Linked DNA regions of Homo sapiens: region 2 is linked to region 1. The links come from fine-mapping of genetic effects on gene expression. A gene starts in region 1. The other region holds a variant in brackets. All regions are shown on one strand. Distances are from middle to middle.

Region 1 (5,373 bases):
CATGGCCTCCAGCCTTCACTGGCTATGGATGTGGGACCCGGGAACAGGAACAGGCAGTGGCTGTGAATGGTTTCATCTCTGCCCCCTGTCCTGAGATGAATCCTGTCCCCCACTGGGGTGAAGTCTTCCTGCTGGTGGGTGGGGAGGGAGAGCATCTGGCCAGCCAGGGCACAACCCCTGCCAGGGATCATAGAGTGGGGATCAGTCCAGCCTCCCAGCAGGCCCAACCTGAATCCTGGAGAAGACGACAAAGGGACAAAGGGGTGGATCCAGAGAAGGCCCCCAGCCTGACTCGGCAGTCCCAAAACCCTCCGTCTCTGACAGCTCCCTTGGGCATGCCCTCTGCCTGCTCCTGTCTCCCGTGTGGCCCAGCCCCGGAAGCTGCCATCATTCTAGCGGGTCCTCCCACCGCCCTCACTGTCCTGCCCAAGGGGACAGGCCTCAAGAAGAGCAAACGACTGCTCCTGGAGTCCCTCATGCGGAGGAGGATTGCACACCTGAAGTGGGGTCTTCCCCGGCGGATCCTGGAGTCCTATTTCCTGTTTAACTTCTTAGGATCTTGCTCATTGACCCTTGCTGGGGCGAGGCTCTCTGGACTGAACACAGGCCAGGAGCTCCAAGCCCAGCAGGAAAGGTATTGTGAGGCCCAAGGCTCCCCACCAGGCCTTAAGTCCCCAGAGAGGTTCCAGAGGGTTCAGCGCCCAGACAGAAAAAGCTCGAAACTTCCTATACAAGCCAGAGCTCTGGAGAGGAACAGACCGCACATGTCAGAGCCCATTAAGCATTTCCATCCAGCCTGAAAAGGCCAGGAGAGTCAGGCCACCAGGGGGCGCCAGAGAACCACAGGAGATCCAGGAAGCGCTTGCTAGGACCAAGCTCCCAGCTCCCAGGACCCCCAGGCCGGCAGCGGAGTCCAGGAGCTGGTGTGGCCCACAAAGGGTCGGAGAGCCTCCCAGTGAGAACAGTAGGGGCAGGAAAATGATCAGGTCAAGGGTCTCCCAGCTGGCAGAGAGGGCTCCCAGCAGAGTGAGGACTTCATTCTCTAGGGCAGACCACGCCCACTGGAGGAAGGAATGTACATCCTGGGAGGCCTCTAAGCTCCCCAGACTCAAATGCCAGCAGCTCACATACTGGAGAAGAGGAAGCCTGGAATCTACAGGGTGCAGAGGGGCTGGGCAGCAGCCTTCCTGCCATTCTGCAGAACCTGTCAGCTTCAAAGGGAGGCTCCACTCTGCGGTGGCAAAGCTGGGCCTGACCCTTCTGGCCAAGATGTCCTGGTCCCCACAGCTCGCCAAGCGCAAGCACTTGGCCCCTAACCTGAGCCTGAGGGAACCTGATTCTACTCTGCCTCCCAAAGTGGGTGATCCTCGTGCAGGGGAGGACAGCATCGGAGATCACACTGCTTCACAGAGGGATCTTCAGCTGCAAGGTCACTGCTGTACTGGGGCCACCCTTCCTAAGACAGAGAGTCCCCAGGGCCAGGAGGCACCTGGGAACCCAAATGGGGCTCCACAGAATACACGAGCCTCCAAAAAGTTTAGTATTATGAAGCATCTGAATTTTTTTCTCTTCCAGAATGGCTTTAAAAAGTAGACTCAGGCCCAGAGTCCTCAGGACATATCAGAAAAGCTTTGAGAGTGTCCTGATCCCTGCAAAGCCTCTAATAAATTGGTCATTTGGGCCCTGTGGTGTTCTGATTTCTCTGGCACATTTTCCAAGTGCCCCCTTTCGGGGTTTGGGATACTTTGTGGGTGGGGTAGAAGCCCCTTCCACTCTGTGGTTGTGGTTTAGGGAATGTGGGTCAACCCAGTGTCCTCTCCGAAACACCTGCCCCCCAGCTCCTCACAGTGGAGTCCACTGAGGTTCTATCCTGCTCTGTCTCCAAGCTAATCCTGATTGAGGCAGGACACTCCAAAAGCCTCAGCTGCTTATGGGGAGGGGTGGTCCTCTGCATGGGACGCTTTTTTTTTTTTTTTTGAGATGGAGTGTAGGTCTGTGGCCCAAGCTGGAGTTCAGTGGCTTGATCTCCGCTCACTGTAACCTCCGCCTCCTGGGTTCAAGCGATTCTGCTGCCTCAGCCTCCCGAGTAGCTGGGATTACAGTCATGAGCCACCACACCCAGCTAATTTTTGTATTTTTAGTAGAGGAGGGGTTTCGCCCTGTTGCTCAGGCTGGTCTTGAACTTCTTTCTCTCTGTCTTTGGTGTTTTGTTTTGTTTTTTTACTTTTATTTTTTGGTCTTAAGCTTCTGATTTATTTATTTATTTTTAAGATGGAGTCTTCCTCTGTCACCCAGGCTGGAGTGCAGTGGTGCGATCTTGGCTCACTGCAACCTCCACCTCCCAGGTTCAAGTGATTCTCCTGCCTCAGCCTCCCTCCCAAAGTGCTGTGATTACAGGCATGAGCCAACTCACCCAGCCTCTAATTGCTTTTAGATGCGAATCCTTGGGATCGCTTATTTTCCTTTTTTTTTTTTTTTTTGAGATAGAGTCTTGCTCTGTCGCCAGGCTGGAGTGCAGTGGCACAATCTCAGCTCACTGCAACCTCCGCCTCCCAGGTTCAAGTGATTCCCCTGCCTCAAGCCTCCCAAGTAGCTGGGATTACAGGCACTTGCCACCACACCCAGCTAATTTTTTGTATTTTAGTAGAGACGGGGTTTCACCATGTTGGGTAAGATGGTCTTGATCTCCAGATCTCGTGATCCGCCCACCTCGGCTTCCCAAAGTGCTGGGATTACAGGCGTGAGCCACCATGCCCGGCCTTCATTTTTAAAAAACAGTAGAAATAGCTTCCTTTCCTTCCTTTTTCAAGGCAAATGCCCCCTACTTTATAATTGCTTTTCAACTTTGGATGTGGTAAAGACATTCCTGCAGGGTTCTAAGCACAAACCGCTTTTGGCTTAGCTAGACACGATCCAGAGCACTTGCGTCCACCACTTGCCCTCAGTGGCTGCTGCTCGTCTGAGACTGCAGCGCCCTGGGTCCGCGCAGGCGCATTCCACACCGACGCAGGTCCGTCCTCCAAGTGCGCATGCGTGCAGTCTGCGCGGGAAAGAGTGCCGCCTCAGCTGAGGGCAAGCGAGGAGATGGCTGTGAGGCAGGCGGCGACGGCGGGCACTCCCGGGCCCAGGAGAGAGGAAGAGGCGGCGCTTCTATTCGAGAGGGCCCATTACCGGCACGACCCGCGCTGGCTGCTGCCCGTGACCCCCCGCCTGTGCCTGGCCTGCGCGCTGGAGCTGCTGCCGGACCCCGGCGTGTCGGTGCGGGCGGAACCTTTTCTTCAGAAGACCTGGGTTTGGCCATTTCCCTCAGCAAACGCGGCCAGGCCCTTGCCAGACCCGCTCCGGTGAACCCGACGCGAAACCGGGCCCCCGCGCTGTGTTCACTCTCCTCCCTGTCAGCCCGTCCCGGACCCGGCCGCAGCGGCCTCTCGGGCCCCTCAGCCCCAGGCCGGCCTGCGGGCCTCCGTGGAGCCCGGTCCACTGGCTCTGCGCCTGAAAGGACGGAAATCCGGATCCCCCGGGACCTCACCCAGTCTCAGGGACACACCTTCCCGCCTTCCGCCTTCTGGCTCCTTCCCTTTGCTGCCCCTGCCTCCATTTCCCGGGGATTCGGCCTTAGCTCAGGCTCCCGCCATTTCAGCCTCCCGCCATTTCAGCCTCCACTCACCTGCGGGCCAGGGGCGCATGCGGCGGCCGCTCCTCATTCCCTTCAGCTGTCGGGGTGTGAATCGGAGGAGGGGCAGTCTGGGCTCCGAGGGGACAGGAGTGACAGGTTACAGCCGGGCAGAAGTGGGGGTGAACGGGAAGACTGTTCCTTGGGCAGAGCTGGCCAAAGCGGGCTGCCTGGGTCCTCATTGCCTACCGCGTTTGCAATGAAGTGGTTTTGTTTGTTTCGAGACGGAGTCTCGCTCTGACACCCAGGCCGGAGTGCAATGGCGCCATCTCCGCTCACTGCAACCTCTGTTTCCTGGGTTCAAGCGATTCTCCTGCCTCAACCTACCCAGTAGCTGGGATTACAGGCTCCCGCCACCACGCTCGGCTAATTTCTCTATTTTTAGTAGAGACGGAGTTTCATCATGTTGGCCAGGCTGGTCTCGAACTCTTGACCTCAGGTGATCCACCCGCCTCGGCTTCCCATAGTGCTGGGATTATAGGCGTGAGCCACGGTGCCCGACCTGCAGTGAGTTTTCTTGTCCATGGAGGCATCCAAGAAGACTTTGGGAGGTCAAGTTTCTCTCCAATTCATGGGAGGGGAATTCGTGAGTGGGTGGATTGGCTAGATCAGCAGTTCTCAATTTTTTTTTTTTTTTTTTTTTTTTTTGTAGAAACGGTCCCGGGGGTCTCCCTGTGTTGCCCAGGCTGGTCTTGAACTCCTAGTCTCAAGCAATTCTCCTGCCTTGACCTCCCAAAGTCCAAAGTGTTGGGATTGCATCTGTGAGCCACCGTGCCTGGCTGCGTTCTCAAATATTTTGATTTCTTTCTTTCTTTTTTTTTTTTTTTTTGAGATGGAGTTTCACTCTTGTTGCCCAGGCTGGAGTGCAATGGCGCAATCTCAGCTCACCGCAACCTCCGCCTCCCGGGTTCAAGCGATTCTCCTGCCTCAGCCTTCCGAGTAGCTGGGATTACATGCATGCGTCACTACGCCCAGCTAATTTTGTATTTTTAGTATAGACGGGGTTTCTCCATGTTGGTCAGGTTGGTGTTGAACTCCCAACCTCAGGTGATCTGCCTGCCTCAGCCTCCCAAAGTGTTGGGATTAAAGACGTGAGCCACCACACCCGGCCAAACAGCTGGATTTTTATCTATTTCTGCATTCAGTCTGTTGTGCTATCATGTCATATAGTCTCAAAAACTCCACTGTACACTTGTGGGAGAATAAGAATGAGAAAGACTGGGCCGGGTCCGGTGGCTCACACCTGTAATCCCAGCACTTTGGGAGGCCGAGGTGGTTGGATCACGAGGCCAGAAGTTCAAGACCAGCCTGGCCAACATGGAAAAAATTTAAAAAAAAATGAGGAAGACTAAGAACATTTTAATATTATATGAAAATATTTTTGTTCTTGTGGACCTCTGGGAAGTGTTTTAGGCACCCTTAGGAATTCCCACACTGTGCTCTGGGAACTCGTAAACTAGCTAATAACCTCTGAATTTTCATTAAGGATGGAAATTCTGAGGCTGCTTTTCTTGGACAGTAAATCAGAGATGAATAAGACAGTGCAGCGGGGAGAAATAAGAGAACATGTTAGAACTTAGAAGAATGAACATGTTTGTAGTCAAGTGCTGTTCAGGGTAAGGAGAGGAATTAGGAAAGGTTTCTTAGAGGAGGAAGCATTCAAATTAGGTTTAAGAAGATGGGTGAGATTTGGACCAGAG
Region 2 (5,373 bases), 120 kb after region 1:
TATAGGTGTGAGTCACTGTGTCTGGCCCCTAACCTGCAATATTGAACAGGGTCCTGGACTCAACCAGCTGTGAAGGTCCTGGAGGACCAGTAAGTCTCATTTTGGATAATCAGGATATTGTCTAAGACCAATCTGTTATCCACGACCACCCACATAAGAGAGTTTAGATTGACCTGCCAATCTTTGATGTTACTGCCAATAAGTACAGGGGGCAATAGATGGACCCAAGCAACCCTCATGCCCCCATAAGGAGACATTCCATGACCCATTCTCTCCCACATGTTACGCTTGATTTGAGTCACCAGAACAATGTTTAGTTGAGCCTGAGGGCAGTGTCACTGTGGAGCTTCAGCCTCAGTTGCCTACATGGTATAATCCAAGGCTACTCAGACATCAGGAAAAGCAGATGAATTTGTATCTGTCAGGTTGAAACAAAATTGTGCTGGCTGGTGTGTCTGCACAAGGTCACTGTTGAGAACTACCTTTGATGGCATTAGACACAGCAGAATAGCTCAGTACTGACGTGTCCATGTGAGTTTTCCTATCATGTGGATGGAAATGAGACACCCAACAGTTGGCCATATTGACAGCTGCAGCTGCCACTGGGCTTGGGCAGACCCTAGGATTGTTTTGCCAGGTGGCAGTGATGGATCTAAGGGATAAAGAGAACATTAATTGTTCCCTGCACTTTCTGGGATCTAAGGTATATCCTCCCCAGGTGGCAGGATTATTGCTATAAAATCCATGTGTCCTTGGGAGACCGAGGTGGGCGGATCATGAGGTCAGGAAAATCAAGACTATCCTGGCCAACATGGTGAAACCCCGTCTCTACTAAAAATACAAAAATTATCCGGGTGTGGTGGCGCATGCCTGGAGTCCTGGCTACTCAGGAGGCTGAGGCAGGAGAATTGCTTGAACCCAGGAGGCGGAGACTGCAGTGAGCCAAGATCGCACCACTGCACTCCAGCCTGGCGACTGAGTGAGACTGTCTCACAAAAACAAAACAAAACAAAAAGCATATGTCCTATGCCAGCATCTATAGTTTCACTTTTTCTCCAGTTGTTGCCTACTATCACTTAGATCTTTCATTCAGAAATGTCAGGTATGAATGGGACCAGGGCATTTTTACAGATGTATAGAGACCTGTTATATCTCTTCTCTTTACCCACATGGGCCACTGCAGGGAAATCAGCAAGCAGGATACTCAGCCAAGTGGTCACAATCCTAACAATCTCAGGCTGTACCATTCCAACCAGAGACTCAGGTAGTTGAACCAGAAATATACAGTCCTCTGTTTTGTGCCACTCCTTGGTAGTGGGTATGTTACCATGCCAAGTAGAATGATATGTTTAGGTGGCAGTGGCAGTGATCTGGATGAAGTAGGCTTGATCAGCAGTTTGACTCCATTTGGTCTTTTCAGAGATTGAGCTTTATGATGGGCATCTAAACGAGTGAGCCAGGCTGTCTAGTTTGTCACCACAATTTGTTTCCATAGTCTGTGGCCCTAAAGAGGGGTGAGGGGTAGGTATCGCCAGGCATGGTGGCTCACACCTGTAATCCCAGCACTTAGGGACCGAGGCAGGCGGATTGCCTGAGGTCAGAAATTTGAGACCATCCTGGCCAACATGGTGAAACCCTGTCTCTACTAAAAATACAAAAATTAGCCGGGCGAGGTGACGCATGCCTGTAGTCCCAGCTACTCGGGAGGCTGAGGCAGGAGAATCGCTTGAACCCGGGAGGCAGAGGTTGCAGTGAGGTGAGATTGCACCACTGCACTCCAGCCTGGGCAACAGAGCAAGACTCTGTCTTAAATAAATAAATAAATAAATAAATAAATAAATAAATAAAAAGAGAGGGGTAGGTATCTTTGATCTGCCAGTTTGTAATCTCCAGATGACCAGGACACTGACAATAGTCAGTAAGAATATAACATGCATGGCTGTTAGGAAGGAGTGTCATCCAAGCAAGGGTGATACCTTTTAATTCAGGCCATTGTCTGACTGGCCTTTATGGCAGTTAATCAGCCAGCATTGTTACTGGGGCTGGCTGACTGTTGCTGCCCATGGACACCTGTGTCAGGTTCCCAGAACCACTCCCAGGCTTGATGGTTCAATAGGAGGATTCACAGGACTCAGCATATGGTCATATTCATGGCCACGATTTACTACAGAGAAAAGATACAAAGCAAAATCAGCAAAGGGAAAAGGTGCATCAGGCAAAGTCCAGGGGAAATAGGCTCAGCTTCCAGAGTCCCCTCCAAGTAGAGTCAAACAGGATGTGCTTCATTCCTCCCGCAATTAGTTGTAACAACGTGTTTAAAATGTTTTCTACCAGGAAACTTAATGAGGGACCTAGTGCCTGGGTTTTTACTGGGAGCTAGTCATGTGGGTACTTTTTGCCTAACATATCAAAATGGCAAACTCCCCGGAGCAAAGTATGTATTCAGCAGAAACCATATTGTTTGCACAAACAGTTTAGGCACAGCGAACCACAGTTAGCAGTTAAGGTGGTGGGGACCCTCCTGAAATGCAAGTTCCCAGATGTCTGCTAAGGGCTAACCTTGGAAGCAGGCCTTTCAAAGGTTAGGAGTCAGGCCAGCTGTGTTGACTCTTTTCTGTACAACACTATTAGCTTTTATATT[A/C]GCTGAATTACAGTGGGCTAGGCCTGAGTACTTGGGGGAACCTGTGAATCGAGGGTCCTGTTGAGCCAGTGGCTTTGCTTTATGTGGCAGAGTCGGGGATGCTGTTTCCTCAGTGGGGTAGCTGCCACCCCTGCATGCCCAGCTGAAATGACGCATACCCCAAGGTTGCATGCTGCAATCATTACCCTGATAAATGGCCCAGATCAAGAACAGCCACGGCCTTCCGTTCTTGGTTTATGCAGCAAGAAAACATGTGTGGACACTCAAGGCCATGGCAGATTGCCTTTCCCAGCAAGGGGTTACCCATGGAGATGCTTTATTGCTGTGATGCCAGTTCTTCTTGCTATGCAGGTCATAGATGCCTCACTTAAACGCAGGAGGAGGGTGACAGCATAGGCCACAGAGAGAATGGGTGCCAGGATAAGTTGAGTCCAGCTTTATCATAACGTATTCTACTTGGACATAACCACAGCAGCAACATACTTTCCTTACATGCTGGATGGGGACAGTTCTGAGATTTTCCTCACTTTTTGATATCCTGCGTGGACTTGTCTCTCGCAGGAGCCCCAGATTTGCTTGGCTCCCCTCACATACTCCCTCCATGCTGGTGAGAGTTCTGAGTTCTCCTGCTTCTTATGTACCCATCACTAGAGTCAACTCGTATCAGGCTGTGTGCCAGCCACTGTCCCTGTCCAGGGGGCTGGCCCTGTCGCAGCTCCTCAGATGCTCACAGTCTGATGGGGAAGGCAGCAGGGAAATAGTTCTAATCCGGTGTAACTGTTATACTGGTAAGAAGCATAATTCTCTGAGGCGAGCCTGACCCAGCCTTGGCAGGGAGGTGGGATGAGTTATTTGCTGGGTGGACCAGCTGAGGCAGGGCCTTCAGGGCAGAGGGACGAACTTATGCAAAGGCTCAGATGCATCCCACATTCATTCATTCAGCATCAAGTGAGTATCTATTGCATCCTGCCCCTTGGGGAAGCAGGCTAGCCCTGTTCTCCTGGGAGTGGCATTCTAGTTGGGGAAGACAGGCAGTCAACTTAAAAATATATAATGTGGTAGGTGGTGACAAGGGCTGTGGAGAAAAAAGGCAGGGGAATGTGGTTAAGGAATGCCCGGGGTAAGGTGGGGGTGCAGTTGCTATTTCACATGGCCTGGGTACTGTCTTACTGAATTATCTGAAGGAGATGAGGAGTCATCTGTGTATCCCAAGGAAGAACATTCCAGGCTGAAGGAGCAGCAAGTGCAAAGGCTGTGAGTTGGAAGCATATTTTGGGGCTGGGGAGTGTCAGGAGATGGGGTCAGAGTTGTAGGCCTGATCCTGAGACCCTCAGAGGTCTTCACAAGGGCTTTGGCACCTACCCTGAGGGACCTGGAGAGCAGGCTGTGACTTACCACTTTATATATATATATATATATATATATATATATATATAATTTTTTTTTTTTGAGACGGAGTCTCACTCTGTCCACGCAGGCTGGAGTGCAGTGGCGCGATCTTGGCTCACTGCAAGCTCTGCCTCCCAGGTTCACGCCATTCTCCTGCCTCAGCCTCCTCAGTAGCTGGGACTACAGGCACCCACCACCACGCCCGGCTAATTTTTTTGTATTTTTAATATAGACGGGGTTTCACCATATTAGCCAGGATCGTCTCGATCTTCTGACCTCGTGATCCGCCCACCTCGGCCTCCCAAAGTGCTGGGATTACAGGTGTGAGCCACCGCTCCCAGCCGTTATTTATATATATATTTTTAAGACAGATTTTTGCTCTTGTTGCCCAGGCTGGAGTGCAATGGTGCGATCTTGGCTCACCACAACCTCCGCCTCCCAGATTCAAGCGATTCTCCTGCCTCAGCCTCCTGAGTAGCTAGGATTACAGGCGCAGACTTACCACTTTAAAGAGGTCATCTGGCTGCTGTGTGGAGCATGGTCGGGGACCAGAAGCAGGGACACAGGTGTGGAGGCTGCTGTGCTCATCTGTGTGGCAGTTGATAGTGGCTTGAACCAGACGATGACAGTGGAGCTGCTGAGAAATGGTCAGGTTCTGCTTCTCTTTTGGAAGTAGAGCCAGTGGGATTTGCTGAGGAAGCATATGTGGTGAGAGAGAGAGGAGCGTTAAGCATGACTAGAAGACTTTTGGCCTGAGTGTCTGGAAGAATGGGACTCATTTTTTCAAATGCTTGGAGAGGGAGGGTAGTAAGAGTTTTTTTCTGCACCTGGTGAACATCGGAGTAAAGATGTCAAGGAGGTAGCTGGATATTTGACTCGAGACTTCAGGGAGGAAGGAGAAGCTGGACTTATAAATGTGAGAGCCATGCCTATGTAGAAGGCACCAAAAGCCGTGAGACAGGACACAGTCATCTGGGGCATCGGGCAGGTAGAGAAGCAGTCTGAGGACTGAGGCCTGGGATGGGGCTGGAGATAGAGGTTGAAGGACTGAGGAGGAAGCAGCGAGAACCCGCAGAAGGAGCAGTCAGCATGATGGTGGCCGACCCAAGAGTTTCCCAGAGGCCACATGAGGAAAGCGTTAGAAGTAGGGAGGGAGCGATCGGTGTGTCAGACGCTGCTGGGAGGTAAGGAAGGCGAGGACTGAGAATCGACTGCTGGACTGAGTAATGTTGAGGCCGCTGGTGGTCTTGATAAAAGCTGCTTTGAGGGGGTCCTGGGAACAAAAGATTGGATTTCCAGAGAATGAGAGGAAAGGAAGTGGATGTGGCAAGTATAGACAGCCC

The links. PIP is the estimated chance that this variant, and not a neighbour inherited with it, causes the effect.
Region 2: its variant is the best candidate, but not a certain one, in a credible set for the expression of MEI1 in whole blood (TOPMed, PIP 0.86).

The regions. Positions count from the first base shown.
Region 1 is chr22:41,696,455-41,701,827 of GRCh38, forward strand. It overlaps MEI1 (meiotic double-stranded break formation protein 1), which reads left to right and starts at 3,049. Exons shown (of 31, transcript NM_152513.4): 1 at 3,049-3,258. The coding sequence starts at 3,085. It also overlaps the pseudogene C22orf46P. RefSeq lists enhancers at 339-418, 429-808 and a silencer at 3,022-3,121.
Region 2 is chr22:41,815,923-41,821,295 of GRCh38, forward strand. The region is part of intron 6 of CCDC134 (coiled-coil domain containing 134); the gene reads left to right. Among named protein-coding and RNA genes, the nearest start is that of SREBF2, 14 kb to the right of the region's middle. The variant A/C (reference allele first, on the strand shown) is at 2,642.